4 linked regions of the Homo sapiens genome follow. The protein of the gene in region 2 interacts with the protein of the main gene of each other region in a biochemical or structural test. Each region holds a gene or a part of one and is shown on either strand. Other genes may lie near its edges. The genes, in order: RNF115, RAB1A, CHML and GOLGA2.

Region 1 (7,029 bases), on a different chromosome or scaffold from region 2:
TACTCAGATCCTTTCTAGTTCTCTAGGCATTGGTTCTCTATCTGTACGTAAAACTACAACTGCCTGTCCTGGCATCTCCAGACACTGACAAGCAAATATGTCCAGGCTGTCATGATTTTTCTGAGACAACTGATATTGTGTACTTGAAAACTGCAATGTGTCCCAAGTTCAACATAGCCTTCCTCCATCTAAGTAGTGGCCAAATATTCATAATACACCTCTAATTTCCTTCCATCCTCCTCCCCAATTCAAAACCAGTGTGTATTCTCAAGCTACATTTCAGGGGCAACGCACAGTAAGTAGATCTCATTCCCCAAATAAACAATCACTACAGAGGTGTAATATGGGAGGTATATGAAAAAACATATTTTATTCCCTCTGGGCCCAAATGAATCATACTTTCTGGTCACAACTTTTAGAGGCAGGCTATTATTTCAGCAGGCCACTCTCTCACTTTTTCTGTTCCCTCTCTGACTCCTTCATCCTTTACCAAAGTACAGAGAAACGTTATCTCTAGCCCCCTTCCGTCACCCACAAATCAGCGTATGATAGTCAACAAAAACTGAGGAAAGACTTCTAGCCAAGAAAAAGACCCATTAAAGAGTGGTGTTTTTGTTCTGATCATTCTAAACTGATCATTCTGATCATTGTTGTGTGACAATACAAATGGTGCCCCTCTGTACCTTTTTTTGGTACACCAACAGTTGTTCTATGTCCCCATCATTTCCTTTTGAGACCTTGAAGTTTCAACAACATTCTTGACCTTCTTAATTTATCCAATGTTAAACACTTGAATGCTACAAAGAGCATGTGCATGGGACACTACTAGGCTGAAAAAATAAGGCCTACCTCTTCCAGGCCAAGCTGTTTTGGACATGATCACACTGATCAGTTTGAGTCCAAGTATAGCCAGAACCAAGGAGAAAAGGAAAGTTTCAGAGATGAAAAATAGGCTTAAAAATTAAAATGTGACAATGTAAAATCTTAACTCCTGAAGACCAATGAATTACCAAAAACAGTGAACTGGCTGCAGACACTTACTGTCTCTATTTCTGTGAGGCAAATTATTTTAAGATTACTAGGAAAAAAGACAGTAAACAATGAGTTGAGCACTTTGAGAGGTTGAGGCAGGCAGATCACTTGAGCCCAGGAGTTTGAGACCAGCCTGGGCAACACGGCAAAACCCTATCTCTACAAAAATACAAAAATTACCCAGGCATGGTGGCACACGCCTGTAGTCCCAGCCACTTGGTAGGCTGAGGTGGGAGGATCACTTGAGCCTGGGAGGTCGAGGCTGTGGTGAGCTGAGATCGTGCCACTGCACTCCAGCCTAGGCGACAGAAACAAACAAAAAAAGCAGTGAGTTGGGGATTTTTTTTTTTTTTTTGAGATGGAGTTTCGCTCTTGTTGCCCAGACTGGAGTGCATTGGTATGATCCGGCTCACCGCAACCTCCACCTCCTGGGTTCAAGCGATTCTCCCACCTCAGCCTCATGAGTAGCTGGGATTACAGGCATGCACCACCACGCCCAGCTAATTTTATATTTTTAGTAGAGACAAGGTTTTACCTTGTTGGCCAGGCTGGTCTTGATCTCTTGACCTTGTGATCCGCCTGCCTCGGCCTCCCAAAGTGCTGGGATTACAGGCGTGAGCCACCGCGCCCAGCGGTAATCATTTTTTAAAATCTCAGAAGCAAAGGTCTCAAACATCTGTCTTTCTGTGCCTGTATGCTGCCCAACTCATTCCCAAAAAGGAATGGGAATCAGATTCCTATCAACATAAGGCTCCCAATATATGTTATGTAGGTTTCTTGGGAAACTGCATCAACTGAAGTAGTCTTTAAAAATTAAAATAAGAGGCCAGGCGCAGTGGCTCACGCCTGTAATCCCAGCACTTTGGGAGGCTGAGGCAGGCGGAGCACAAGGTCAGGAGATTGAGACCATCCTGGCTAACACGGTGAAACCCCATCTCTACTAAATATACAAAAAATTAGCTGGGCATGGTAACAAATGCCTGTGGTCCCAGCTACTCCGGAGGCTGAGGTAGGAGAATCGCTTGAACTCAGGAGGCAGAGTTTGCAATGAGCCAAGATCGTGCCACTGCACTTCAGCCTAGGCGACAGAGCGAGACTCCATCTCAAAAAAAAAAAACAAAAAAAATTAAAATAAGAAAACCAAAGCACACAATGATAAACCACTTTTCTCTTCTTGCTGTAATTTTTCTTTGATTTGCTCTCTGGGGATCAAGACAAAACAAAATCATTAGTCTTAGATACCTGAATTTGACCTCGCCTCATAGCTAATGTGATCAAGAGTAGTTTTTTTTTTTTTTAAATACAATTAAGACAAAAGGACTTTATATCAGCAGGACTTTAGGGCTGTGGTTCCACTGTTTTTATAGTAAAATACACTAATGGTGGGGTAGAGGTTGGAGAAGGAGGTGGAAACATCCGTTACAAGGCAACATGACAGACAGCAGGACCCTAACTAGACTTTAAGGAATTAATTCTATTCAGACGGGGGGAGCCCTACATAATTAAGTTTCACACTTATAAAATTATCACTCTGAATTCAGGGATAAGAGGCATTTGGTTGTAGATACAATTCCATCTGTAGATACTAACTTTAAATTTAAAGAAGAAAAACATTCATTGCATTTATATTATGTGTTGAGTTTCTTACATATTCCTAAATCCATCTACTAATTTTTTGTTTTGATACAATTTACAGCTATGGTAAGATGATTACCACAGCCCTGATTCAGGTGTGGTCTTTAGCTTCAGAAAGTCCATCGGTCATGTAGCTGACTGTCATTGCTAAATCTGTTGCTTGCAGAGGCCTCAGTGCTCTGGCTTTGCCGAGTAGAGTCCTCACCATTTAAGCTCTTCCTACATACAGGACATGTGTCATGCTGAAACAGAAAAATATTAGTCTATGTGAAGATCCTGGCCTGAGAAGCTGGGAGTATTGTACACTTAAATAACCCTGAGAATTGTCACATCAAAAATTATGACATGGAACAGAAAAACAATAGAGAATGCATCCTCATAGAGCATGCACTGGCTCTAAGGTGTGATACCAGGATATCTCCCAAACAGAACTTTAAGCAGAACTGACAGGAATAATTCTAGGCCAGCAAGTTAATAACAGCTAATACATACCACCAAACAGAACGAACCAGAAACAGTGAGTGATCTATGACAGGAGGGTAACTGCCCATTACTTCCCAATATGGTCTAGAGCAGAGGTCAGCAAACTTTTTGTTTAAAGGGACAGGAAAATTGGCCGAGTGCAGTGGCTCACACCTGTGATCCCAATACTTTGGGAGGCCGAGGCAGGTGGATCACCTGAGGTCAGGAGTTTGAGATCAGCATGGCGAAACCCTGTCTCTACTAAAAACACAAAAATTGGCTGGGCATGGTGGTGCACGCCTGTAATCCTAGCTACTCTGGAGACTGAGACACAAGAATCACTTGAAACCAGGAGGTAGAGGTTTCAGTGAGCTGAGATCACGCCACTGCACTCCAGTCTGGGTGACAGAGTGAGACTCTGTCTCAAAACAAATACATAAGGGACAGAAAATAAGTATTTTAGGCTTTGCAGGCCACACCACAGCTGTTACAACTAATCAACTCTGCTGACGTAGCACAAAAGTAGCCACAATCTATAACCAAATGAACATAGCTGTGTTCCAATAAAATTTTATTTACAATAACAGGTGGCAGGACACAATGACCTGTAGAACATAGTTTGCAACCCTTGGTCAGAAAAGTTCCAAACAAATAACAGTATCAGAGTAAGCCAGGGATTTATGGGATAAAATCTGATCTACTTGGATCTCGAGGAACTGTTAACTATACCTTTACTCTGAATCATCCCCCAAAGAAGCCATGACTTGCTGTACTCACCAGTTCTAGCCACGGCACAATACAACTGCTGTGAAAGAAGTGATTGCAAGGTAACTGCCGGACTTCCTCTTCAACTGTGTAATCTTCTTTGCATACTGGACACTCTAAACCCATATCTGTTGAAGAAGGAAATGCCTTTTAAAGTAAACAGGCAAAAGGAAAGAAGAAAAAACTAACCCAATGTCTCTACCAACCCTACGAATGCATAAAGAAAAGACACAAGAGACAAAAGAAAATGTACACCCAAGTAGCAGGCAGCTAAGAGGCATGACTTGTATTTCAAAATGAGGGTAAAGGTGGTAGTAGACAGAGACATGAAAAGAAGGAATGATGAATGGGGCCTACTCCAAAAAGGCCTATATAGGAACTATATAAGGCCTATTTTTTGATGTAAAGAGTTGGAAGAAATAAACTGGGGCTTAGATGATCTGCTCAGTAAAACAGGAAAAACATCTTCCCAATGTGTGACAGCCCTCTGGCAGTCAGTTGCTACTGTGAATCTGTCCACCATAGCCAAGGGATTCATCTCAGCAATCTTATCAGTGCAGCGTCTCAAGCCACTTGCCACTTTCACCATGCTCTTTTCAGCATGGGATGAAGCATCCTATTTCAGTGTGGCTGTCCTAAAGTCCTCTGTAAAAACTGTTAATGAGGGTGAAGGCGGGTGGATCACGAGGTCAGGAGTTCAAGACCAGCCTGGCCAAGATGGTAAAAACCCTGTCTCTACTAAAAATACAAAGATTAGCTGGGTGTGATGGTGAGCGCCTGTAAACCCACCTACTCAGGAGGCTGAGGCAGAGAATTGCTTGAACCCGGGAGGCGGAGGTTGCAGAGAGCCAAGATTGCGCCACTGCACTCCAGCCTGGATGACAGAGCAAGACTCTGTCTCAAAAAAAAAAAAAATTATTAATAAAAGCTATACCAGAAAAGAAGAAAATACCAGAAGCCATACCAGAAAAGCTATACCAGAAGTGGTGCTGCAGAACTGCAAAGTCGAAGTCTAGCTCAGGTCACCAAATCAAGAGACAGAAAGCCCTCTTCTCTGAGAAGAAACAGTCATGAACTATACTGGGAGCTCCAAGCAGCAAGTTTTGAGTTTCCCAAATTTGGCTAATACTGTCAGCTAGTCTATACGCCTAGTGGCTGGGATATGCTCCATGAACTAACAGCAGATAAGGCATTTGGAGCAGTACTACTACTTAATAGATTCACTCCTTACTCTCCATTCCTATCACCTTAGCCCTAATTCTTTTACTTCTCATGCCTAGTCTGCTGCAACAGCCTCCCAGCTAGTATCCCAAATTCCACGGTCTTAACCCTCCAAATATATCCTATACTTTGCTACAACTTAGTTTTCCCTCAAACCAGCTCCACAGCAATCCCCAGCTCCTCTTCACTTGGATTCTCAGCTGGCACCTCAAAAATCAACAAATTAAAAAATGTAAAACATCACCTCATCTCCTTACCCAAACCAGGGTCCATTCACTATTTCCCTGTCCCTTAAGATGGCAGCACCATGTTTATAGTTACAAAGCTGTGAAATCTCAGAATTCTCTTTGACTCTTTCCCCTTCTTCATCCCATTATGCAATGAGTGAGGAAAGCATTTCTCCAAAATGATCTTCTGAATCCTTTCCTTTCTGTTAGCATTGTCACCATCAACTGAACCTCATCTGGACTGCTGCAACACTCTAAAATCCCTGTTTCTGCTCTCTCTCACTTCCAATGTTTCACACACTGCCCCTAGACTAATCTTCCCTAAAGACCACTTTACCTGACTCACACACCACGTATATTAGTTCATACTTTTCCTTAAATAGAATGACCTAAGATAGCCCACCTTGTCTTTAAAATCTCTAACTCTAAACCCGAACTGATGGGAACAGAAACTCCCAGACCAAAATGCTGTCCCTTGTCACTAAATTCCTCCAGTGCTTACAAATAAAATAGTATCTATGACTAAGATACCTAACTGTACCTGACACAAAGTAGATTTGAAACAAACTCCCAGCCTATTTTTTTCTTCTCCTTTCCCCAATGTCAGTATCATGTGTCCAACACAGTTTTTAATCATTTGATCAGTTTTTCTTCAACTTGTTACAATCAATTCTTATCTATCTTTGTACCTCTTTATTCCCAATGGCACCTAAAAAAGAGACATAATTGCTCAGGAAATACCAACTGACTAACCTAATAAAGGGGTAGGAACTTTCCAGATTTGGCACCCAGATAGGAATTTTAGAGGGCTATAGCTTCACTTAAAGGTCCTTAATATAGGAAGGTATTGGGATTTTTTTTCTTATTTTTTTGTCTTTTTATTTTGTTCACTTTTTAAACTTTTCACCTGTCAGAAGATACCGGGATTTTGAACCGAGATCAGAAGATGACAGAATAAGTATAAAAATGAACCTACCAACTTGTTCCTGAGTTACTGTCACTGTTGGAAGAGATGTGATCTTTTCCTTGTCAGCTGGGGGAGGGCCTGTGTTTTCCAGTTGTCCTAAAAGCTACAAAAAAAGAGAAAGAAAAAGACGAAGTGGCAGACATCGCAATATCCCTGGAGAGGGAACTGCTCCAGCTGAGAACAAACAGTGCAGACATTAGGTATGTTAGTTACTCTTACTTCTGCAAGGCTCTGAGAGGCTTGGGTTTCCCCTTTCCTGCTGCCAGAACACTCATAATTGCTTTACAATTTCAGAGTGACGTTCGTATAAGCCTACAGACAAACCCATGATTGCAAGGCCCACCTCTAGGCATAAAGCAACTTCAGAGGCAGCAAAAGGGTTGTGGTGTCACGAGTAAAACTATAGCTTAATAAAAAGTAAAATGTAACTGGTCCAAAAGCTTCATCTTCTGGAAGAAGAAAAAAGCGAGAGTATGAAAAGTAGCATAACGTGAGCCAAGAAATAGGTAAATTACTGCCTATAAGACGACTGAATATAAAGGACATGCTTTCTAGTCTCAGAAATCCACAACGGAAATGAAAAACCAATCAAATTAAAATGAACATAAACAAGTGGAAGCAATTATACATGGCATGGGAATACTTTTTTCTCTGCTTCCTTCCCCTACTTTGCTCCATCTAGCAGAAATCCCTGCTTCAACATGTGAGGAAACCCTCCTT
Region 2 (7,029 bases):
CTACTAAAAATCCAAAAATTAGCCAAGTATGCTGGCGTGCGCCTGTGGTCCCAGCTACTCGAGAGGCTGAGGCAGAATCGCTTGAGCCCAGGAGGCAGAGGTTGCAGTGAGCTGAGATCACACCACTGCACTCTGGGCAAGAGAGCCAGATCCTGTCTCAAAAAAAGAGAAAAAAAAAAAAAGAGGCTCAAAGTCTTTCAGTGTATCCTTGGAGGAAGCATGAACTCGAGGATCAAGCTACCCTGACTTCAAAACATCAAATCCAGGTTCCTGGTTATTTAATATTAGGGAGAGTCACCTAACAGTTTCTTCATCTGTAAATGCTAGATAGCATTCACCTTGTACAACAGCTAAAGGGGTTTAAATGAACTAATGTTTGTAAAATGTGCCTGACTATAGAAGCTGCTCAATAAAGCAAGTTTCCTTTTCTTCCTTGCTCACCAACCTCTTTCACAAAGATAGAAGGAAAAATTGTTTTTTGACTAAAAGTCAACAAGAAGTTACAGCTGATTAAAGTAAGCAATGGCACCCAAAAAGTAAAATTTCCTTTTTATCCAAAATGGAGGTATTGCTATGTTGCCCAGGCAGATCTTGAACTCCTGGGCTCAAGTGTTCCTCCTGCCTCAGCCTCCAAGTAACTGGGACTACAGGCACTGATATGGTTTGGCTCTGTGTCCCCACCCAAATCTCATCTCAAGTTGTAATCACTGAGGGAAGTGATTGGATTATGGAGAAGTGATTGGATTATGACGACGGTTTCCCCCATTCAAGTGATAGTGAATGAATTCTCACAAGATCTGATGGTCTCATAAGGGGCTCTTCCCCCTTCACTTCCTTCACACTCTCTCGCCTCCTGCCATGTAAGACGTGCCTGCTTCCCTTTCTGCCACAGTAAGTTTCCTGAGGCCTCCTCAGCCATGCAGAACTATGAGTCAATTAAACCTTTTTTTTAATAAATCACCCAGTTTTGGTCAGTTCCTTGTGGCAGTGTGAGAACAGAATAATACATGCACCATGCCTGGCAGAAAGAGTAAAATTTCTGATGTTTCCTTGCTACTCTGAAAACTTTCCTGACACTAAATCCTAACAGTACTAACAATACTTTCCTTCATATGTAATTCTCATTACTCCTCATAATCAGAGTAACTTTTTCCCATGTTTGTCTCTCCCATTGTCTGCCTCCTAATGGACTATGTTTTATTCATCTCTGTAACCTCCAAGTGCCTGGTGTAATGTAGACATTTTCATAAAGCCTCATGAATGAACAATCACAGAAAGAGGCCTTCCATGGTGTACAACTGGACTCAGTACCTGCCCTATCTTGCTGAATGTTTTATAATCTAATAAAACTCAGATAAAGACCCAGATGTCACACCTGAACAGGAAAAGCTGAAAGGAAAAGATAATTAAAATATAAATCAACAGAATCAAGATTTTGAAAAGACCTAGAAAACTTGAAGGATTACTGAAGCCAAGCAAGAGGAAATGATAGGATTAAAAGTAAAATCTTGTGTTTAGATTTTTTTTTTTTTTTTTCAGACGGAGTCTCGCTCTGTCACCAGGCTGGAGTGCAATGGCGCAATCTTGGCTCACTGCAATCTCCGCCTCCTGGGTTCAAGTGATTCCCCTGTCTCAGCCTCCCAAGTAGCTGGGATTACAGGCACCTGCCACCATGCCCAGCTAATTTTTTTGTATTTTTAGTAGAGATGGGCTTCACCATGCTGGCCAGGCTGGTCACGAACTCCTGACCTTGTGATCTGCGTGCCTCTGCCTCCCAAAGTGCTGGGATTACAGGCGTGAGCCACCGTGCCCGGCCTGTGTTTAGATTTTTAAAACACCAGTCACAGAAGTGTAAAGTGAGACCCTCTTCTTTTTTTTTTTTGAAACAAGGTCTCGCTCTGTTGCCCAGGCTAGAGTGCAAATGGCACAATCTTGGCTCACCGCAACCTCCATCTCCGGGCTCAAGCAATCCTCCCACCTCAGCCTCCTGAGTACCTTGAACTACAGGGACACACCACCATGCCTGGCTGAATTTTGTGTTTTTGGTAGAGACAGGGTTTCACCATGTTGCCCATACTGGTCTTGAACTCCTGAACTCAAGAGATCTGCCTGCCTCAGCCTCCCAAAGTACTGGGATTACAGGGGTGAACAACTGCACCTGGCCAAGGCCCCTATTTTAATTAAAAACAAGCAAATCGGCCAGGCGCCGTGGCTCACGACTGTAATCCCAGCACTTTGGGAGGCCAAGGCAGGCGGATCACCTGAGGTCGGGAGTTCGAGACCAGCGTGACCAACATGGAGAAACCCCATCTCTACTAAAAATACAAAATTAGCCCGGCGTGGTGGCACATGCCTGTAATCCCTGCTACTAGGGAGGCTGAGGCAGAAGAATCGCTTGAACCTGGGAGGCGGAGGTTGCAGTGAGCCGAGATCACGCCATTGCACTCCAGTCTGGGCAACAAGAGCGAAACTCCGTCTCAAAAAAAAAAAAAAAGAAAAAAGAAAAAACAAGCAAATCAAAAACCTTAAGACCCAAACTAGAAATAATATAGCTACTGAAACAACAAATGGTTGTCTTTGATTAATAATAAGAAAGGGCCATGAGCCCTTGAAGTTCAAGAGAGAAATTCATTCAGGCTCCAAATCAAGACAGGATTTACCTCATGTGTTATATCTCATACTTGATTTAAGAAATCAAATTTAATAAAAGGCATTTATAAAATGTAAGAATAACCCAAATTGCACAAGGTTCTGAAAATATCATTACAGGAAAGAATGAGGACTTCAGAGGTAGAAGAAAGGTTGTGATAAGATCAATCTGAAGGGCAGGCTTGCCAATAAAAGAGGAATTAATCTGATTCAGGCAGCTCTACAAGGCGGAGGAATAAGAAGAGACAGAAGTAAAAGAAACAGGCTTCAGCTCAATATAAAGAATTAACATGTCTCTAAAAGAATCATGTAGTGAGCTGACCGCTGCACTCTAGCGAGGGAGACAAAGTGAAATTTTTGTCTCAGAAAAAAGAAAAAAAGAAGAATCACTAGGAATAAATAAAAAAAATAACTGGCAACTAGAGGTTTTGTGGTTTTTTTTGTTTTTTTCTGTATGTTTTGCAAAGATGAGGTTTCGCCATGTTGCTCAGGCTGGTCTTAGACCTCCTGAGCTCAGGCAATCTGCCCACCTTGGCCTCCCAAAGTGCTAGGACTATAAGCGTGAACCACGACGCCCGGACAGCCACTGCGCCCAGCCTTATTTTGTTTTTGAGACAGGGTCTCTCACTCTGTCCCCAAAGCTGGGGTGCAATGGTGCAATCTTGCCTCACTGCAGCCTTGAAGTCCTGGGCTCAAACATTCCTCCCACCTCAGTCTCCTGGGGAGCTAGGACTACAGGCATGGACCACCACACCTGGTTACTTTTTTTTTTTTTTTTTTGGTAGAGATAGAGTCTCTATGTTGACCAGGCTGGTCACAGGAGCTATGTTGACTCCTGGCCTCAAGTGACTCTCTGACCTCGGCCTCCCAAAGTGCTGGGATTACAGGCATGAGGCAACATGCCTAGCTGAAGTTATGTGTAAAATGGAACTAGCTATTTCGAAAAAATGGTAAGCTTCTTAAAAATGTTCAAAAACCCAGGCGTGGTGGCTCACGCCTGTAATCCCAGCACTTTGGGAGGCCAAGACGGGTGGATCACTTGAGGTAAGGAGTTTGAGACCAGCCTGGCCAACATGGCGAAATCCCATCTCTACGAAAAATACAAAAATTATCGGAAGGCTGGGCACAGTGGCTCATGCCTGTAATCCCAGCACTTTGGGAAGCCGAGTCAGGCAGATCACGAGGTCAGGAGTTCGAGACCAGCCTAACCAACATGGTGAAACTCTGTCTCTACTAAAAATACAAAAAATTAGCAGGGTGTGGTGGCGCACGCCTGTAATCCCAGCTACTCAGGAGGCTGAGGCAAGAGAACTGCTTGAACCTGGGAGGCGGAGGCTGCAGCGAGCCAAGATTGCACCACTGCACTCCAGCCTGGGCGACAAAGCAAGGCTCCATCTCAAAAAAAAAAAAATTGTCCGGGCATGGTGGTACACACATATAATCCCAGCTATTAGGGAGGCTAAGGCAGGAGAATCACTTGAACCCAGGAGGCGGAGGTTGCAGTGAGCTCAAATCGCGCCACTGCACTCCAGCCTGGGAGACAGAGCAATACTGTATCTCAAAAAATAAAAAAACAAACAAACAAAATGTTCAAAATGAGGCCTTCAGGCATGGAAAAGAAATTCCTATTAAAGATGAAAGACAGACAAAGATGAAAGACAGTGTCCTATAAGATCCCTTCCAGCCACAGGAAAGTAACAAAATATGAATGTTTCACACACGAATACACACCCAAATCTTATAAACACCAATGATCACACATAATACAATTATTCCATACCAGTGCTTTAAAGTACAGTTTTGGGTAGATCTTTATGTGCTCTTTATGGTGCCAAATAAAAGGTTGAGACTGTACTTATATCGTGGGAAAAAATATGGAGGGTAATTTGTTCACTGATTGAAAGTATTTCAAGCTATTTCTGAAAACTAAATCCTTGCAAGTCCTAATTTGACACATCAAGTGTGTTTACTTATATCAATATCCACAGCCACCTATCTTTTGTTAACATACCTTCTTTTCCTCATCAGAGTCATGTAAGAAAAGGGAGCAACTTAACCTATCAAACACCCATTTATCTGGGCATGTCATATCATAAGTAGTATCTATATGCTGCCCAAAAGTTTACAAAGGGCTTTCACACGTATTGTCACATACACAAAGCTATTACAGTTGGTTCTCACAACTAGCTTATAAATTAGTAAATCAGGTGTCATCACACACATTTTAGAAAGGAAACTGGGTCTCAGGGTTACTTCGGCCTTTTCCCCAGAGACACAAACCCATGATTCTCTAACAGGTAAATACTAGAACCAAGACAACAAATCTAAGTCTTCTGACTCCTAATGCAGGACTCCTTCCAATTCCATGTGTCATCAGTTCCATGAAAAGGGGCAGTCACTGGTTTCCTGTGTTTATAGCCTACTTCTTGCTAATAGCCTACTCTGAAAAATACTGAGAGATTTATTTTTTAAAAGACCACAGATATGCCCACACTGACAGGACTCAGACCCATACTGAAGAGGCACAACTGAACTATTATAATTGCCTATATTTAATTGGGGGCTGGGGGTGTAAAGATGGATAAGGGGGATAGGATGGCACAGAGACACAAAATATTGAAGACAGAGCTTCGGTCACTTGGTTCTACCAGTAACTGTAGGCAAGTCATTAAATCTTTCAGCATTCGTTTTTTTGAGCAGTAAAATGAACATGTTACAAAAACTAAGTTCCTTTTTCCAACAAAATTCTGTGTTTCTACAGAGTTGGTGCACACTATCTAATAAAAATACTTAGAACTACATAAGTACTTCTCTTCAACTGAGCCACATATGAAGAATCTCTTCCTAGGGTTCCTTTAATGTTCCATGCACTTAGCACAGTAAAAGACAAACAAAAATGGTCTATAACATTTGCAGTGTAGGACAAGGTAAACTTGAACTTAGATTTCCACTGATAAAAGAAAAAGATGAGGACCAAGTTTGACTTAAAACATGAGTTTCTCTGCTTCATGAATAGAAAATTCAATGAGGCTTAAGTAATCTTGAAAATATTATTTTTAATCTAAGTAATTCTTATTCTACCATTCTATCTTAAGTACATGAATCTTAAGACATTTTACATTCAATTTTGTTAGCATAGTAAATATATACAAAATAACAATACATTACAAATTTACCAAAATAAATTTCAAAAAAATTACTAGCCAAGTCACTTACTATTTGAAGCTTGATTGTTTTCCCGTCTAACTCTATAGTTCTTATTTTGAAATCCACACCAATTGTGCTGATGTAGCTTTCTGTATATGTATCATCCTGAAGGGGGAAATAATTAACAATTAAATGTATTGTTCAGTGGAGCAGATGCAAGTCTAAGTGGAAAAAAAAAAACTGTTGTTCAAGAGTAAATAAAAAAAAAGTTTACTTTTATCTACAGTCCAAATTTATGAATGAAATGTATAAAGTATAACATGCTGACAACAGCCACTCCATCCACTTTCAGTACTTACTTCATATTCTGATTACAAAGCACTACTTAACTGTAGTTTCTTTCCTTAAGATCTCTACAATAGCCATTCTTTATTTTTTCCAAACATCATCTCTTGCCAAATTCTTTACATACATCATATAGAAAAATATTTTATATTTTCAATGATTATGAATAATTTTTCTAATCACTAATCAGCAAAACTCTTGCGACCCACCCACCCAATTTATTCACCACAAAACAACAATTTCACTCCGCTTTTTCTTAGAAGTCAATCTTGCTTCCTAATTATGATTTTTTTTTTTAGATATAATGCACATAACATAAAAGTCACCCTTTTGAAGTGGACAATTCAGTGGTCCTTATACATTCACAAGGTTGCAAACTACAACCACGAATTCCAGGACATTTTCTTCACTCCAGAAAGAACCCGTCTTCACTCCCTGGCAACCACTAATCTACTTTCTCTTTAGATTTGCCAATTTTGGACATTTCGTATAAATGGAATCATAAAATATGTGGCCCTCTGTGTCTGTCTTCCTTCATTTAGCAGAATGTTTTCAAGGTTCATCCATGTTGTACCATGTAACAGTACTTCTTTTTTTTTTTTTTTTTGAGGCAGGATGTTGCTCTGTTGCCCATGCTGGAGTGCAGTGTCATGATCTCAGCTCACTGCAACCTCTGTCTCCCGGGGTCCAAGCAATCCTCATGACTCAGCCACCTGAGTAGTAGGGACTACAGGCGTGCATCACCACGCCTGCCTAATTTTTGTACGTTTAGTAGAGACAGGGTTTCGTGATGATGGTCAGGCTGGTCTCAAACTCCTGACCTCTAGTGATCCCCCTGCCTGAGCCTCTCAAAGTGCTGGGATTACAGGTGTGAGCCACCATGCCTGG
Region 3 (7,497 bases), on a different chromosome or scaffold from region 2:
CTAGTCAAAGCCTCTGTCTCAAAAATATCAAGGATTCCACTCATTTTTGGCATTCCCTAAGAAGCCAGGAACTAAGTACAGAATGCAGCAGTTGCCTGGCCCACTCAAGTATAAATATAAGTATGTCTGAATTACTTATTCTGCTTCTTCCAGCAGGGTGTGAAGATGGAGACTGAATCTATGATGGTATCTGAAGAGGTGTAACCATAGTACATGCTGCTTCTTGGCTTAGAAAGACAGGGCTCAGGGTAGGAGTAGGAGCAGAAGACACAATCAATAAGCGCTAAGATCAGGCACGTTCTAACCTACAGATATCAAAGGGGTCATCAAAATGCAAAGCAAGTAGGATGGCCTTACAGAGCATTAAGCTGAATTACCCAATAATAGAGATGAGAGAACTGATAGCTGGAGAGATTAAGTGACTTGAGAAAGCCCGCACAATGCATGAGTCGCAGGATAAGGAACAGGATCCACTCTTGTGCCATCAGACCAATGGTCTTTCCAACAGATAGGGCAAGCCTCTCCAAAAGCCTCTGCATCAAGAAGCTACTTCCCTCATTTTTAACTTCCTCCCCTTCAATACTCCACTGTTAGGTAGTTCTTGCTCAGGGATAACTCAGGAAGTGCCCTCCTTTTCTTCATCCTTAACCTGGATCTAGAAGCACAAACTCCGGAATTTACTCCAGGCAAAGAAATCATCTTCGCTAAAAACTTTTTAAACTCTATAGTAACTTCACTACTAACTTGCCCCCCAGGGCTTAAGTCTCGGAATCTCTTATCTCAGGGTTTCCACCTCTACATTAAAAACAGGGAGAAAGTCATGGTTGAAAGCACTAAATGCCCTGAAAAATAGGGCAGCCCTCAGGCAAAAATCTAAGTGAACTTAGAAAATCACTGGGCTGGGACCCTAGGAGGGATGGTGAAGAAGAAAAACAGGAAGGGAGAAGTGACCAGGAGACACAGGAGGGTGGGATCAGCAGAGGAAAGAGGTGAGGAAGAGGGTGGATGACAGCTAGCACTTATAAAGAACTCAGTACACCCTTGTGTTCAAACTCCCGGGCACGAAAACAGAATTTTCCAGCACAGAAAAGGCACTTCAAGGAAAAAAGAACTTTGATGTCTGTGAACAAACACCTGTTGACTACCCTGGAGAACACTACTGATGATACTTTAGGCTTGGGCTTGAATAACCTTCTTAGCATTGCCGAAGAAACTGCCTGATAGGTATTTTACAATTAATATAAGGAGTGTAATCCCATAGTCGTCCATACCACAGCCTACATACACTTGCAGTCCCCTCCCTAAATTTCAAATGTTTGTTCAAATGAAATTATCAGATTAAAGCTTATGAGGGGCGGGGAGGAAAATATTATAACCTCTGAAGCAATCAAATAAAATCTATTTTCTTATTTCCTTCAAAACGCCAAAAAATGAATCATTACAAATATAATATTTGGGTTTGTCATAGCATAGAGGTTACTGAATAAGAAAATATTTTTGATAATTCTACAAAGATTTTTGTTCTCCCAAACCTACCAAGATTAAAGCAATAAAGTATCAATGGATTTCAGGATTTAAAAAAGGAACTTTAAGCCTTGAGAAATACACATTTCTATTTCAAATCTCCCTACAAATGAAATTCCTGAGGCACACAAAAAAATAATTTCCTTTCTACGCTTCCTTCAATGATTTGCTGAGTTGTTGATCATCCTTCAAAACATCATGTCTCAGTGAAACTTAAATCTTCCATAATAAGAGTACTGTCGAAATACATCTTCAACAATGAAGTTCTACTTTAATGAAATCTACCGATTGCAGAGCTAATTACAGTATTTGTTCACCTGAGATGGTATTGGCTGAGCCATTTGTAATCTCACCCAAGATTCTGGTGTGCTGGAACCCATCTATAAGACGGAAAATAGTAAAAACAGCTTACAGGGCACATGCCAATTTGCATTCTGAGGACCTGAATGAAACTGTCTCATTCCCTAGAAAGCATTCAAAGGTTTACAAGTACTAATGAGAATTTTTTTTTACACATTGTTATTTTGGTTTTCTACTCTCATTTTAGGAAACAAATAGTAGTACATGAATCTAATCTCATCACTCCCTCCAACTTTCACGAGTTAATCACTTTTTTTCTTGAATCTCTTGACTCTACAGGCCCTCGTCTCTTTCCTCAAAGTGTAAAAAGCCGTGGTTTCGTGCCTTGTTGAGTGATCTTAGGAGGTAAAAACAAATAAGAAAGGAGGCGGGCCGGGGTTTGGGGTCAACGTGGGGGGCAGATGAGAGACCACAGGAATGGAGTCCTGGACAGCGTGGGGCGGGAGGGGACGGAGGAAGAGGAAGGCACCCGCCATGCGGCTGGGGTCGGGCAGCGTTGAGGAGGCGAGCGGGGAGCGGGGCGGTGTAGGGCGGGGGGCGCGGGGCCGAGCGGGAAGCGGTGCGGGGCGGGCTGGGGGGCGGACGCACGGAGCGGGCAGCGGGGTGGGGAGTGGAAGTTTGCAGAGGGGAGGCTGCCTTCTCCCAGTCCAACTCACCGAAGAGGCTGCCGCTAAACCCGTCCCACACGCAGCCCACGGTGTCCCACACCCAGCCGTTCCTCAGGCAGGACACGAAGGTAAAGGTGACCCCGAAGAGGGACACCAGCAGGTCGCTGAGGCTGATGTTGACCAGGAGGAGGTGAGTGGGAGTGCGGAGCCGCTGGAACTTGTAGTAGAGGACGAGCACCAGCAGGTTGTTGCCGACGCCCAGCAGCCCAATGGAGCCCAGCAGCAGCGCCAGGCGCTCGTAGGTGCCGGGGCTGAAGAGGGGCGCGGGGCTCAGTGTCCCCGCCGGCGCCGGCCCCTCAGCGCCCGCGGCCCCGCCGCCGTCCCAGTAGCCGTGGCCGCCGCTGCGGTTCCCCGAGTACATGGCCCGGCGCCGGCGCGCCTGGCGGGCGGAGGCGCTCAGCTTGCGGCGGGGCTCGCGGCGCGCTCCGCACTGGGTGGGGTTGGGGCTCCGCCGCCTGCTCTAGCCATTGTGCACTGAGGGGCCCGCGCTACCGCGCGCCGGGCCCGCCCTCTTCCCGCCCCTTCCGCCCGGCGCACCCCCCGTGGCCCCGCCCCTCCCCGCGGCCTGTCCTCGTCGCTCCGCTGCTCCCGGCGCGTCCTCTTAGCCCCGCCCCCCCGCGGGCGCGTCCTCGCGGCTAGCTCGCCCCGCCCCCACTGGCTGGGCACCTTCCGCTGGTCGGCGTGGACGCGCGTCGCGGGATAGCCTGGGGGCCAGGGCCGCAGGGTAGCCTCGATGGCTCTTCACACCCCCACCTCCCTGCACCCACCTTGAAAGCTTCGTGTCCACTCACCCATTCATGCACTCACTTATACATTCATTTATTCCTAAGTATTTATGAGCGCCTGCGCCCACCACGTGCTGGCAAGAATTGGGTTTCTCCCCTTCCTGGGAAGCTGTAATAACCCACAACCAGCCTACGAAGCCCATCCCGCGTCATACACTCAATGTAAACAAAAGCAAAGAAAACATTGAAGAGCTCGGGGTAGTCTTACCGGAAAACTGAGAAGAAAAACAACAAATTGATAGACAGGTGCCTGCCTAACTACCTGACTGCTAGAGGACACATGTCCCAGGGCTGATACAAGAGCCTGCCACCCTTGGAGAGTCTGGGATGAAAACTCTCTGAAAATGGCATTCCAATGGAACTGACTTTAAGCCCTGGGCTGGACCCCAAGGCCTTCCAATACCGTCCTTCCTGTGCTTGAAAGCGTGGGTAGATCTTTCCGGTCACTGAGGCCTGCTAAAGTCCTTCACAGGCAGTGAAAGATTCAACCTAAATCTAGCAGGTATAGGAGGCAGGTGCTATATTTAGAACAGCACACATTTCCCATTGGGCCTCTTCTCCTGTAGTGATGAGAATATAGTACAAGTCAAATATAGGTTGTGAACGTCATCACACTCTGCAAGAGCTGCTTCTGCCTTTGTGGTTGCACAATCCCTAAGGAGGCCCTACAAGAAGATCACAGTCCCCAGCCACACCTGCAGCCTGTCCTGGACACTGGTGACGAACACAGGGTTTGTGCAAGCTAAAGAAACTGCTCTCCATACGGGCGTGCCTCACCTCTGTTTGAAAGATCAGTAGGGAATGACTAGCTTGGATCAATCCACATTCTGAATTCCCTGGAGAGAGGATCTAATAGGCTGGCAGCAGCTCTCCACCCTGGTGCACTGAGCAATAGCTAAGGGGCAGTGTGCTCTGCCTTTGACACCTTGATTTTCCTTCAAGGCTTCTGCTCTGGACTCGCCATCTGTGAGACTTCCTACCCACCCACCCCTTAAAAAACACACACACACTTTTAATTGTTAATTTTAGATTTGTACAACCACTGAACAAAACATAACTATTTAACAAGTTCTATATGTTTAATGTCGAAAGTGTTTTCTGTGTCTAGTCTACAGTAAGTTCTCAATAAATAGTAATTTGAATGAATGAATAAAGAACTCGCTATATTTTTTCCTATTCATTCTTCATTGCTGAGTCATTGCCCTTATAAAGCTCACATTCCAGTCGTGTTGGGAGAACAAACAAAAATTAGATAAATACGTAGGGTGTCAGCCACTGACAAATGCCATGAAGAAATAGGGGTCAGGCGTGGTGGCTCATTCCTGTAACCCCAGCACTTTGGGAGGCCGAGGCAGTAGGATTTCTTAAGCCCAGGAGTTCAAGACCAGCCTGGGCAACAAAGTGAGAACTGCCCCCTAACTCTTCAAAAAATAGAAAATTAGCCAGGCAAGATGGTACATGTCTGTGGTCCCAGCTACTCAGGAGGTTGAGCCAGGAGCTATGGGAGATGGGGCAAGGAGTTTGTAAGAGTTAAAGAAAGAGGAAAGAAACACTAATAGCAGCTCAACAGTCAGACAGTGTTATTTGGAAGAATAAACCTAAGAGGGGCTTCTGGCCGATTTCGGTCAGGAGCACTCTCTTACAGACTAAGAGTATTTAAGGATTTTAGAGTGAGAGAGCTTATCACAGGCGTGGAATGTTTCTGTTTGGAGAAGAAGTTTATTGCCAAGTTGGAATGTCTCTGTCGGAGGGGAGGTTATCTCGGGGCTCGCATGTCTCTGGTCAGGGAGGGGTTTATCTTAGGGTTGGAATGTTTCTGGTCGGAGATGTCATTTGTGGTGTATGGTCATGCTGACCTTAGCCATTAGGCTGATGCTGTTTGGATTTAGGTGGTTTTTGATCAAGGGGAACTTTAAAATGGCAGTGCTTGTCCATGATGGTGATGCACCTGCTCTGTCAAGGTTGTTATTTAGACAAGGTGGTTATGGGCAGGAGTACTGTATTGGTATGTTGGAGGAACAATAAGGAAGCAAGAATGAGAATCGGGAAATGCAGCCAGTCAGGTGGGTGTGCAGTGAATGGCCAGAATATGCAGGACCTTGGCCATTTCAATAAAAGGACTTTGGCTTTTACTCAATCAGAGTAAAGTCCAGGGCAATGCCTACTAGCAGTGAATGCAAAGGAGGAGTAAGAGGCCTTTGACAAATGCTTAAGCATTTTTGACACAGTAATTTTACAATACTATGAACCATTAAGGACATTTATTGAGCTTGACAGAAACAGGCAATGATAAGGATATATGTTTCTTTTTTAATTTTAGAATTATGTAATGACAGGATAATGGCAGAACACTACAATCTTTTATTAAAAAAAAAAACAAAAAACAAACAAATGAAAAACACCAGCATGATATAGTTTGGATGTTTGTCCCCACCCAAATCTCATGTTGAAATATAATCCCCAATATTAGAGGTGGGTCCTAGTGGTAGGTGTTTTGGTCATAGGGGGCGGATCCCTCATGAATGGCCTGGGCCATCCCCTTTGTGATAAGTGAGCTCTGGTCATCTAAAAGTGTGTGGCAACTCCGCCATCCCACTCTCTCTCTCTCTCTCTCCCTATCTGGTTGTCGCCATGTGAGATGCCTGCTCTCACTTTGCCTTCCACCATGAGTAAAAGCTCCCTGAGGCCTCCCCAGAAGCTGAGTAGATGCCAACACCATGCTTCCTGTACAGCCTGCAGAACTGTGAGCCAATTAAATCGCTTTTCTTTATAAATTACCCAGTCTCAGGTATTTACAGCAGTGCAAGAACAGCCTAATACACAGCATAAGGACAAACATGTAGACCAATGGAATAGAATAGAGAGCCAAGATATAAACTCTTACATATATGGTCCATTGATTTTTGACAAGGATGCCAAGGCCATTCAATGGGGAAAGGAGGAAAGGACAGTCTTTTCAACAAATGATGCTGGGAAAACTGCATATCCATGTGCAAATGAATGAAGTTGGAGCCTTACATTATATCATATATAAAAATTAACTCAAAATTGATTGGAGACCTATATGTAAAAGCTAAAACTATAAAACTTTTAGAAGAAAACTTCTTGGGTATGACACCAAAAGCACAGGCAACAGGAGAAAAATAGCTAAATTGGACTTTATCAAAATTAAAAACTGTTATGCATCAAAGGGCACTATCAAAAGAGTGAAAAGACAGCACAGCAAATGGGAGAAATACTTGCAAGTCATATATCTGATAAGGCATCAATATTATAAAGACCCCCTACAACTCAACAACAAAAAACTCCACACAACCCAATTCAGAAATAGGCAAAGGATCTGAGTAGACATTACTCCAAAAATATACTAATGGCCTAAAAGCACATGGAAGGAAACTTACTGTGATTAGTCATTAGGGAAATGCAAATCAAAGCCACAATGACATACCACTTCACACCTACTAGAAGGGCTATCATCAAAAAACAAAACAAAACACAAAAACAAGTGTTGGTTTTTGTGTGGAGATGTGTAGAAATTAGAACCCTGTCGTACTGCTGATGGGAATGTGAAATGGTGTGGCTCCTGTGGAAGACAATTTGGTAGTTCCACAAAAAGTTAAACATAGAATTATTGTGAGCTCATTCCTGTAATCCCAGTGCTTTGGGAAGCTTAAGCAGGATGATCACTTGAGGCCAAGAGTACAATGACCAGCCTGGGCAACATAGTAAGACCCCATCTCTTCAGAAAAAAATAAAAAATTAGCTGGGTGTGGTGGCACATACCTGTAGTCTCACCCAACTATTCAGGAGGCTGAGGCAGAAGGATCCCTTGAGCCCAGGAGTTTGAGGTTGCAGTGAGCTGTGATCGTGTCACTGCGCTCCACCCTGGGCAAGAGAGTGAGACCCTGTCTCAAAACAAAAAAAATTGCCATATGATCTAGCAATCCTATTCCTAGGTATATACACAAAAGAATTGAAAGCAGGGACTCAAACAGGTATTTGTATACTTATGTTCATAATAGGATTATTCAAAATAGCCAAAAAATAGAAACAACTCAAATGCCCATCAACAGATGAATGATACATGGAATGTGATATATACATACAATGGAATATTATACAGCCATATTTTAAAAGAAATGAAATTCTAGTACATGCTA
Region 4 (7,798 bases), on a different chromosome or scaffold from region 2:
GTGGCTCACGCCTGTAATCCCAGCACTTTGGGAGGCGGAGGCGGGAGGATCACGAGGTCAGGAGATCAAGACCATCCTGGGTAACATGGTGAAACCCCGTCTCTACTAAAAATACAAAAAATTAGCTGGGCGTGGTGGCGGGCGCCTGTAGTCCCAGCTAGTCGGGAGGCTGAGGTAGGCGAATCGCTTGAACCCTGGAGGCAGCGGTTGCAGTGAGCCGAGATTGCACCACTGTACTCCAGCACTCCAGCCTGGGTGGCAGAGCGAGACTCTTGTTTTTTTTTTTTTTTTTTTTAAAAAGAACAGATGCAACCATGAGTAGTGCTATTAGAAAGGAGAAGAGGCAGAGCACACTTCAAGAGCTTGGGGTTCCTCTGATGATGCAAGGGCAGTTGGAGGAGTTGGTTTTGTGGTCCTGGTTAGGAGGCTGAGTGTGATTTCAGACTTGGCAAGTGGGAAGGCAAAGATTCTGCAGGCAGCTCTGGGTGTCCCAAGAAAGGTCAGGGCTGGAGAGAGATAGGAGGGTTGTGGGCACTGGGGTGGGCTGAGGGAGTGGGAGTCAGAACTTGGAGCAGGTGTGTAGAAAGAGAATGGCAAGAGGAGAGCAGAGCCACCCGGAAATGTGTGGGCAAAGGATTACCCAGGTGCTGAGGCAAGAGACTGAAGGCACAAACTGTTTCAGTATAATAAAGAAAATAGAATAAGAATAGTCACAACACAAATTAGATATAGAGATGATCATGGACAATTATCAATCATTAGTATAAACACTATTAATCATTAGCTTTTAATATTACTCCTTGTTGCACTACTAATATAACCTAAGAATAACCGGCAAGTATAGGGTCAGGTGCTGAAGGAACATTGTGAGAAGTGACCTAGAAGGCAAGAGGTGAGCCCTCTGTCACACCTGCATAAGGGCCGCTTGAGGGCTCCTTGGTCAAGCGGTAATGCCAGTGTCTGGGAAGGCACCCGTTACCTAGCAGACCGTGAAAGGGAGTCTCCTTTCCTTGGAGGAGTCAGGAAACACTCTGCTCCACCAGCTTCCTGTGGGAGGCTGGATATTATCCAGGCCGGCCCGCAGTCATCCGGAGGCCTAAACCCCTCCCTGTGGGGCTGTGCTTCAATGGTCACGCTCCTTGTCCACTTTTATGTTCCTTCCATACTCCTGGTTTCTCTTTGAAGTTCATAGTAGATAGTGGTAGAAGAAACAGTGAAAGTCTTAAAGTCTTTGATCTTTCTGATAAGTGCATAGAAGAAAATGCTGACGTATGCTGCCTTCCCTCTCTGCTTTGGCTACCTAGAAGGGAAGGGCCCACTGGCCCACGATCATGTGACTTGCTTGATCTTATCAATCACTTGGACGACTCACCTTCCTTACCCTGCCCCCCTTGTTTTGTATGCAGTAAATATCAGCGTGCCCAGCCATTCTGGGCCACTACCGGTCTCCACGTCTTGGTGGTAGTGGTCCCCTGGGCCCAGCGGTTTTCTCTTTATCTCTTTGTCTTGTGTCTTTATTTCTTACAATCTCTTGTCTCCGCACATGGGGAGAACGCCCACCAAGCCCCGTAGGGCTGGATCCTACAGAAATGCCCACATTTACCTCAGGAGTGGCAGGAAGCAAAGGAGCCAGCCGAGCGGGCACAGAAAAAGAGGCAGGAGAGGTCAGGAGGGTGCTCCTGCAAATAGGCCCAGAGAGGAGCAAGCCCAAGGTACCGCTTAAGAGTTCAGTTCAAGCCCAGGCACGGTGGCTCATGCCTGTAATCCCAGCACTTTGGGAGGCTGAGGCGGGTGGATCACTGAGGTCAGGAGTTTGAGACCAGCCTGGCCAACATGGCAAAACCGTCTCTACTAAAAATATAAAAATTAGCCGGGCATGGTGGCGGGCACCTGTAATCCCAGCTACTAGGGAGGCTGAGGCTGGAGAATCACTTGAACCTGGGAGGCAGAGGTTGCAGTGAGCCAAGATCGTGTCATTGCATTCCAGCCTGGGCGACAGAGCAAGATTCCGTCTCAAATAAAAAAAAACAAAAAAAACCAAAAACAACTCAGTTTCTCAGTTTAAAGCCCCCAGCTCTGCCACGTCCTGGCTATATTCATCTCTCTGGAACTCACAGGCCTCACCTCAACATGGGGACAGTAAAGCGTCTTCTCAAAGGTTGCTGGAAGGAACTGGAAAGATGATGCATGTAAAGTAAGCTGATGGGACAATGCTCAATAGAGCCTCCTTTTTTTTTTTTTTGAGATGGAGTTTCGCTCTGTTGCCCAGGCTGGAGTGCAGGGTGATCTCGGCTCACTGCAACCTCCACCCCCTGGGTTCAAGCGATTCTCCTGCCTCAGTCTCCCAAGTAGCTGGGATTACAGGCATGTACCACTATGCTCAGCTAATTTTTGTATTTTTAGTAGAGATGGGGCTTCACCATGTTGGGCAGACTGGTCAAACTCCTGACCTCAGGTGATCCACTCACCTTAGCCTCCCAAAGTGCTGGGATTATAGGCGTGAGTCACTGTGCCGGGTCGAGCGTTGTTTTTAAAAATGGAAGGAATGGAAGCTGGGCATGGTGGCTCATGCCTGTAATCCCAGCACTTTGGGAGGCCGAGGCGGGCAGGTTGCTTTGAGCTCACGAGTTTGAGACCAGCCTGGGCAACATGGCGAAAATTTGTCTCTACTGAAAATACAAAAAAATTAGCCAGGCGTCATGGCACACAACTGTGGTTCCAGCTATTTGGGACGCTGAGGCAAGAGGATGGGTTGGGCCTGGGAGGCAGAGGTTACAGTGAGCCCAGATCGCACCATTGCACTCCAGCCCGGGCGACAGAGTGCGACTGTGTCTCAAAAAAAAAAAAAAAAAAAAAAGAGAAGGAATGAATTAGCATGAATGAGAAAGGCATGATCTGCAGTGAGTTACCGCATGGTCAAAGACAGTGGATACCAACCCACTTGCAGAGAGAAGCTCAATCAGCCCAGTGCTTTTGGCAAACTATGGCTGCCACCCCGTCATCGTCATCTGAGCTCACTGTGAGTTGCCCTTCAGGCCCTGCCTCTGACCCTGCCATCTCTGGAGAGCCCTCTTTGCAAGCCCAAGCCTGGGCTCCCCATCTCAGAACCATGTGCATACTTGTCCTGGAATTATTTTTTTGCCTGTGGCTCCTGGAGGGCAGGGGGCTATCTGGCATACACCTGCATTGCAGCAGTTGCTAAATCAATGAACAAATACCAAGTCTTTCCCGATCTAACTTCTTTTTTGTTTTTGAGACTTGTCTAGCTCTGTTGTCCAGGCTGGAGTGCAGTGGTGCAATCTCGGCTTACTGCAACCTCCACCTTCCGGGTTCAAGCAATTCTCCTGCCTCAGCCTCCTGAGTAGTTGGGATTACAGGCCTGCACCACCACGCTCGGCTGATTTTTTTGTATTTTTAGTAGAGACAGGGTTTCATCATGTTGGGCAGGCTGGTCTTGAACTCCTGACCTCAAATGATCTGCCCGCCTCAGCCTCCCAAAGTGCTGGGATTACAGGTGTGAGCCACTGCACCCGGCCCTCACGATCTACCTTAAGAGTGGTGGTAGTTGTAGTGGCAACTCCATCTGGGGGATGAGAGAAGGAGTAGGCTGCGTTTTGGGGGTGGCTTGCCAGCGAAGAGGAGAGACTATTAGCAACGAAAGGAGTGGCCAGGGTGAACGCCAAGCATTTTCCTGACTGGGGAGCTATGGGTTTGTTTAAAGGCAGGGCTGGGTGAGGGGTGAAAAGAGCGAGGAGGAGAGATGGCTGGTGCTGGACTGGAGTGAAAGGCATCTGAGGAGCCAGGAGACAGGATGGGGAGGGAGAGGAGTTAGCCTAGGACAGGACAGGATAACACTTCTTTGAAGACTGGCGGGCATGAGGAAAGGAAGGGGAGGGATTCGGGAATGACCTGGCGGTTCTCAGTCGACTGGGAGAAGATATGGAAGAGGGCCAAGCGGGGATTGGCTGCTGTTGGGATGGGGAGTGGGGCCGGGAGCGCACAAGGGAAGGTCGAGGATGGGAAAGGGGGTGTGGGGGAAGAAATACTCACAGGGGATCGGAAGGCCCCGCGGCAACTTCGGGTAAGTCTTGGTTCAGTCCTAGAGAGGAATCCGAGGGGAAAGTCTGATTGGACCCACAGCCCGCTGTGAGGACGGGGTACTGTGGGGATGCGGGAGGAGGAGCAGTTGGGAAGTAGGAGCGCCAGGGACTGGATCCATCTGGAAAGGGGGCAGACACGCTCTCAGGATCAGGGTAGAGACCCTCTAGGAAGGGGGCGTTCTGAGACGGGGGTTGTCTGGAGCACTGGATGGGAGTCTTTGGAGGTGATTTCTGGGAAGGGAGAGTCTGGGGCAGGGCTGTGAGGAGTCAGGAAAGAAACTGTGGAGTCCGTTCCTCGCCCACCTCCTGAGCCCTGGGGTCCGAGGCCCCCGGATCAGGGGGTTCAATGGCGCAAGAGGGTCCAGCGCGGGAGTCGGAGAGCGACCTCTCAGGTGCACCGGGCCAGGAACTCTGACCCGGAGTGTGAACTGGCGCACAGAAAGCTGCGCGCGCACCCAAGGAAAGCCGGCCCCGCCCCTCTCCCGAGGTGGGCGGGGACAGCGGTTGCGTGCGCAGCTTTTGTTGTGACGCCACAGGTCCCTCTGGCCACGCCGCTGCATAGCCACGCCCCCTTCCGCTTCATATTTCTCATTGACCAATGGGCTTTGATCTTTGAGGCCACGCCCCCATTCTGCGCTCCAGTATCGCCCTGGTTACGCCTCCTCTGGCTCCGTCGCACAGCTGCGCGGTGGCTGACTGACTTCCGCAGTGGTTGCCGGGATCGCGCTGATGTGGCCCCAACCCCGCCTCCCTCCCCGCCCCGCGATGTCGGAAGAAACCCGACAGAGCAAATTGGCCGCAGCGAAGAAAAAGGTAAAGTGCACCGGGTCGCGGCCCCCCGACCCAGCCCCAGCCCCACTCCGATGGCAGGACCATGGCCAGAGTCTCTGCCACTCCTGAGGCACACCGGGCTGGGCTCCCCACGGCGCGTCCGGGCTCCCTCCACCAAAGTCTTGTCAGCCAGCCCCGCCCCCTCAGCCGCCCAGCCCCCGCCCTCGCCAGTCGCCCCCGGGTGACTTTGGGCTGGTGCTCCCGGGGCTCCCCGCTCCAGACTCGGCCCTCACCTCCTGCCCCCCGAAGTCCGACCTCCCTGGGCTCTTTGGGCTGGCGTCTCCAAGGACCTAGGACCCCAGCAATTCAGCCCCTGCCCTCGCCAGTGACTTTGGGCCCGTGACTCCCGGGGCCCCCCGCTCCAGACTCGACCCTCACCTCCTGCCGCCCCAAACCGGACCTCCCGGGGTTCTTTGGTCTCGGGTCTCCAAGGACCTGGGTCCTGGCCCTGCGGTCCCCTCCCCCATCGCGGAGCGGCGACTTGGACGTCGCGCTGATGTTCCCCCTAGGAGTGGAATGTAGTGACGTCACAATCCCCCTCGGAACCGTAATTAGTTGCGCGAGACCAGTCTTTGATCTTAGGACCCAGTCCCCTAAGTGTTCTCATCCCGCTTCTGGTTCCTCTGGTCACAGCATAAATTTCCAGCTGGAAGGGGATTGGGGACTATGGGACCTAGGAGGGAGAGGTTTCAGGCTGCCTTACACCCTTAACATAGACATTGACAGTGTGAAAAGCCTACACTTCACCCGTGAACTGAAAACATTGGCAGTATCTCTGGGTGGCAATGTGAGAACGGGATTGGTTTGGTTTTCCCCCAGGCTTCTACTCTCCAGAGAGACTTTAACATTTTTTTCTGACTTCTCCACCTCATATTCGAATTCTCCATGGTTCTGGGACCAGAGTGCCCTTCAGTGGTCTCTGGAATGAGATCTGCTTATCTTCTGTGGAACAGGTCTTGGGAAACTGAACTTGACAGCTTGAATCTTCCTCATATCATCTCAACCTGGGGTACTTGGAGTGCCACAGGATAAATACGGGGCATCTTTCTGAAGCATCAGTCTCCCTTTATTCTCTTGAGAGAGAAAAAACATTAATGTACTTAGGGATGACAGTCACATAAATTTCTAAGAGTATACCAGACTTTTCTCTGAAATGAGGCTTGGGTTGTCCTCTTTCTGTTAAATTCCCAGGTTCAACAGAAAGGCTGCCTTCTGCCATGTGGATACATTGATGTAAAAGTTTGAGAGGCATTGGTGCATTTCTTAACATTACCAAACGTGTGAGGATGTATGACTCTAAACCACACAGTGTACAGTTCCTGCCGACTTAATGTTCCGGCCCACATTTTAAGATACATATTTATTTTTAGAGAGGGGGTGTCACTGTGTTGCCCAGTCTGACCTTGAACTCCTGGCCTTAAGTAATCCTCCTGCCTTAGCCTCCCAGGTAGCTGGGACTCCAGGCTTGACTTCTCCACCTCATATTTGAATTCTCCTTGGTGGAGTGGAATGTAGTGATGTCGCAGTCCCCCTCGGAACCGTAATTAGTGCGTGAAACCAGCTTTTGATCTTAGGACCCAATCCCTAAGTGTTCTCATCCCGTTTCTGGGATGAGAGGTGGAAAAGTACCTCTGCCTCTGGTTTTGGCCCCTGGCAGCTGCTGATTTGTGGCAAAACCCCAGAGCTTGGAGTCAGAAGACTGAGTTTAAGTTCAATTCTTGCCTTTTTTAAGCCATGGTATCAATCCCTCTCAGTCACTAAGTGATTGTGACAAGAACTTGTGGAGTTGTTAGTGGCATTAAATCAGATGGTATATAAGAGTATTTTGGAAAAATTGTAAAGTAGGATGTAACTGTGGGGGCTTGTAGATCTCATGAATATTATTGCTCTTCTTTTCCACAGTTGAGAGAATATCAGCAGAGGAATAGCCCTGGTGTTCCTACAGGAGCGAAAAAGAAGAAGAAAATAAAAAATGGCAGTAACCCTGAGACAACCACTTCTGGTGGTTGCCACTCACCTGAGGATGTGAGTCTTGGATGGCCAGGCTCCTGGGGACAGGGGGCCCAAGGGGCAGTAGAGGGTAATTGTTATGATTGTGGAAGAACTGTTGGGTACTGATTAAGAGTTCTGGGTTTGTATCCTACCTGTCCATCTGCTAGGGATGTGATTTAGGGCAAATTGCTTGAGCTTTTTGGGCCTCTCTTTTCACAACTATAAAGTATTGTTTTACTTACACTTGTGAAGTTTAAATGAGATTTGTTATTGTTGTTTTTATGTTAATCCCTAGTACAGGGCCTGCTGTCCTAAACACCCAGGACACCCAGGAAATGGTAGTTGCTGTTTCATTTTCCTCATCTCCAGTCTCAAAGGGAAGCCAGGCCAATGAGAACAGCTACTTGCCATCAGGCTATCCCTTTAGGAGTCACTGAAAGGGCCCCAGGGTGTGGTGAGGAGAGTCCCAGGTGCTAGGATTAGGGGAAGATCTAACTTTTGAGTTCATCTTTGCCACCAGCTTGCTGCGTGACCACAGAAAAACCACTTCTTCCCCTGGGCCTCAGTTTCCTCCTCTGTGAGGTGACATTGGATATGATCAGTGTCTTTCAAACTTGTTTTTTAGCTGGAGCCCCCTTTGTTCAAGTGAACCCTTACTCAGAAGTCTGGTTTTTAAAATGGAGGTGGAGGTTTGTAGTTCTACTAGATTCATTGCCCACATCCTGGGCCTAAGGAGAAGGGTCCAAACAGGATATTAAGAGCTGCATTGGTCAGGTGACTCCACTCTGTGTGACTGCATCGTTCAGGGGACTTTTCCATCTATTTGTTTCTGCCCCTGGCAAGGCAGCAGGTGGCCATTTGGAAGGATGGCACAG

The links.
Region 1: the proteins of RAB1A (region 2) and RNF115 form a complex in vitro, tested with the Homo sapiens proteins (one study listed by BioGRID).
Region 3: the proteins of RAB1A (region 2) and CHML form a complex in vitro, tested with the Homo sapiens proteins (2 studies listed by BioGRID).
Region 4: the proteins of RAB1A (region 2) and GOLGA2 form a complex in vitro, tested with the Homo sapiens proteins (2 studies listed by BioGRID).

Annotation. Positions count from the first base shown.
Region 1 is NC_000001.11:145,744,089-145,751,117, forward strand, and holds part of RNF115 (E3 ubiquitin-protein ligase RNF115), read right to left. Parts: intron 6,413-7,029; coding exon 6,319-6,412; intron 4,023-6,318; coding exon 3,907-4,022; intron 2,910-3,906; coding exon 2,778-2,909; 3' UTR 1-2,777. UniProt on the Homo sapiens protein: E3 ubiquitin-protein ligase that catalyzes the 'Lys-48'- and/or 'Lys-63'-linked polyubiquitination of various substrates and thereby plays a role in a number of signaling pathways including autophagy, innate immunity, cell proliferation and cell death.
Region 2 is NC_000002.12:65,092,106-65,099,134, forward strand, and holds part of RAB1A (ras-related protein Rab-1A), read right to left. Parts: intron 5,962-7,029; coding exon 5,866-5,961; intron 1-5,865. UniProt on the Homo sapiens protein: The small GTPases Rab are key regulators of intracellular membrane trafficking, from the formation of transport vesicles to their fusion with membranes.
Region 3 is NC_000001.11:241,637,342-241,644,838, forward strand, and holds the start of CHML (rab proteins geranylgeranyltransferase component A 2), read right to left. Parts: upstream 3,029-7,497; 5' UTR 2,914-3,028; coding exon of another isoform or gene 2,541-2,913; intron 1-2,540. Other genes in the region: OPN3 (opsin-3), read right to left, coding at 2,541-2,913. UniProt on the Homo sapiens protein: Substrate-binding subunit (component A) of the Rab geranylgeranyltransferase (GGTase) complex. Binds unprenylated Rab proteins and presents the substrate peptide to the catalytic component B.
Region 4 is NC_000009.12:128,273,008-128,280,805, reverse strand, and holds the start of GOLGA2 (golgin subfamily A member 2), read left to right. Parts: upstream 1-4,798; 5' UTR 4,799-4,829; coding exon 4,830-4,913; intron 4,914-5,309; coding exon of another isoform or gene 5,310-5,398; exon of another isoform or gene 5,399-5,450; intron 5,451-6,833; coding exon 6,834-6,956; intron 6,957-7,798. Other genes in the region: DNA repair protein SWI5 homolog, read right to left, coding at 4,051-4,219, 5,310-5,398. UniProt on the Homo sapiens protein: Peripheral membrane component of the cis-Golgi stack that acts as a membrane skeleton that maintains the structure of the Golgi apparatus, and as a vesicle thether that facilitates vesicle fusion to the Golgi membrane.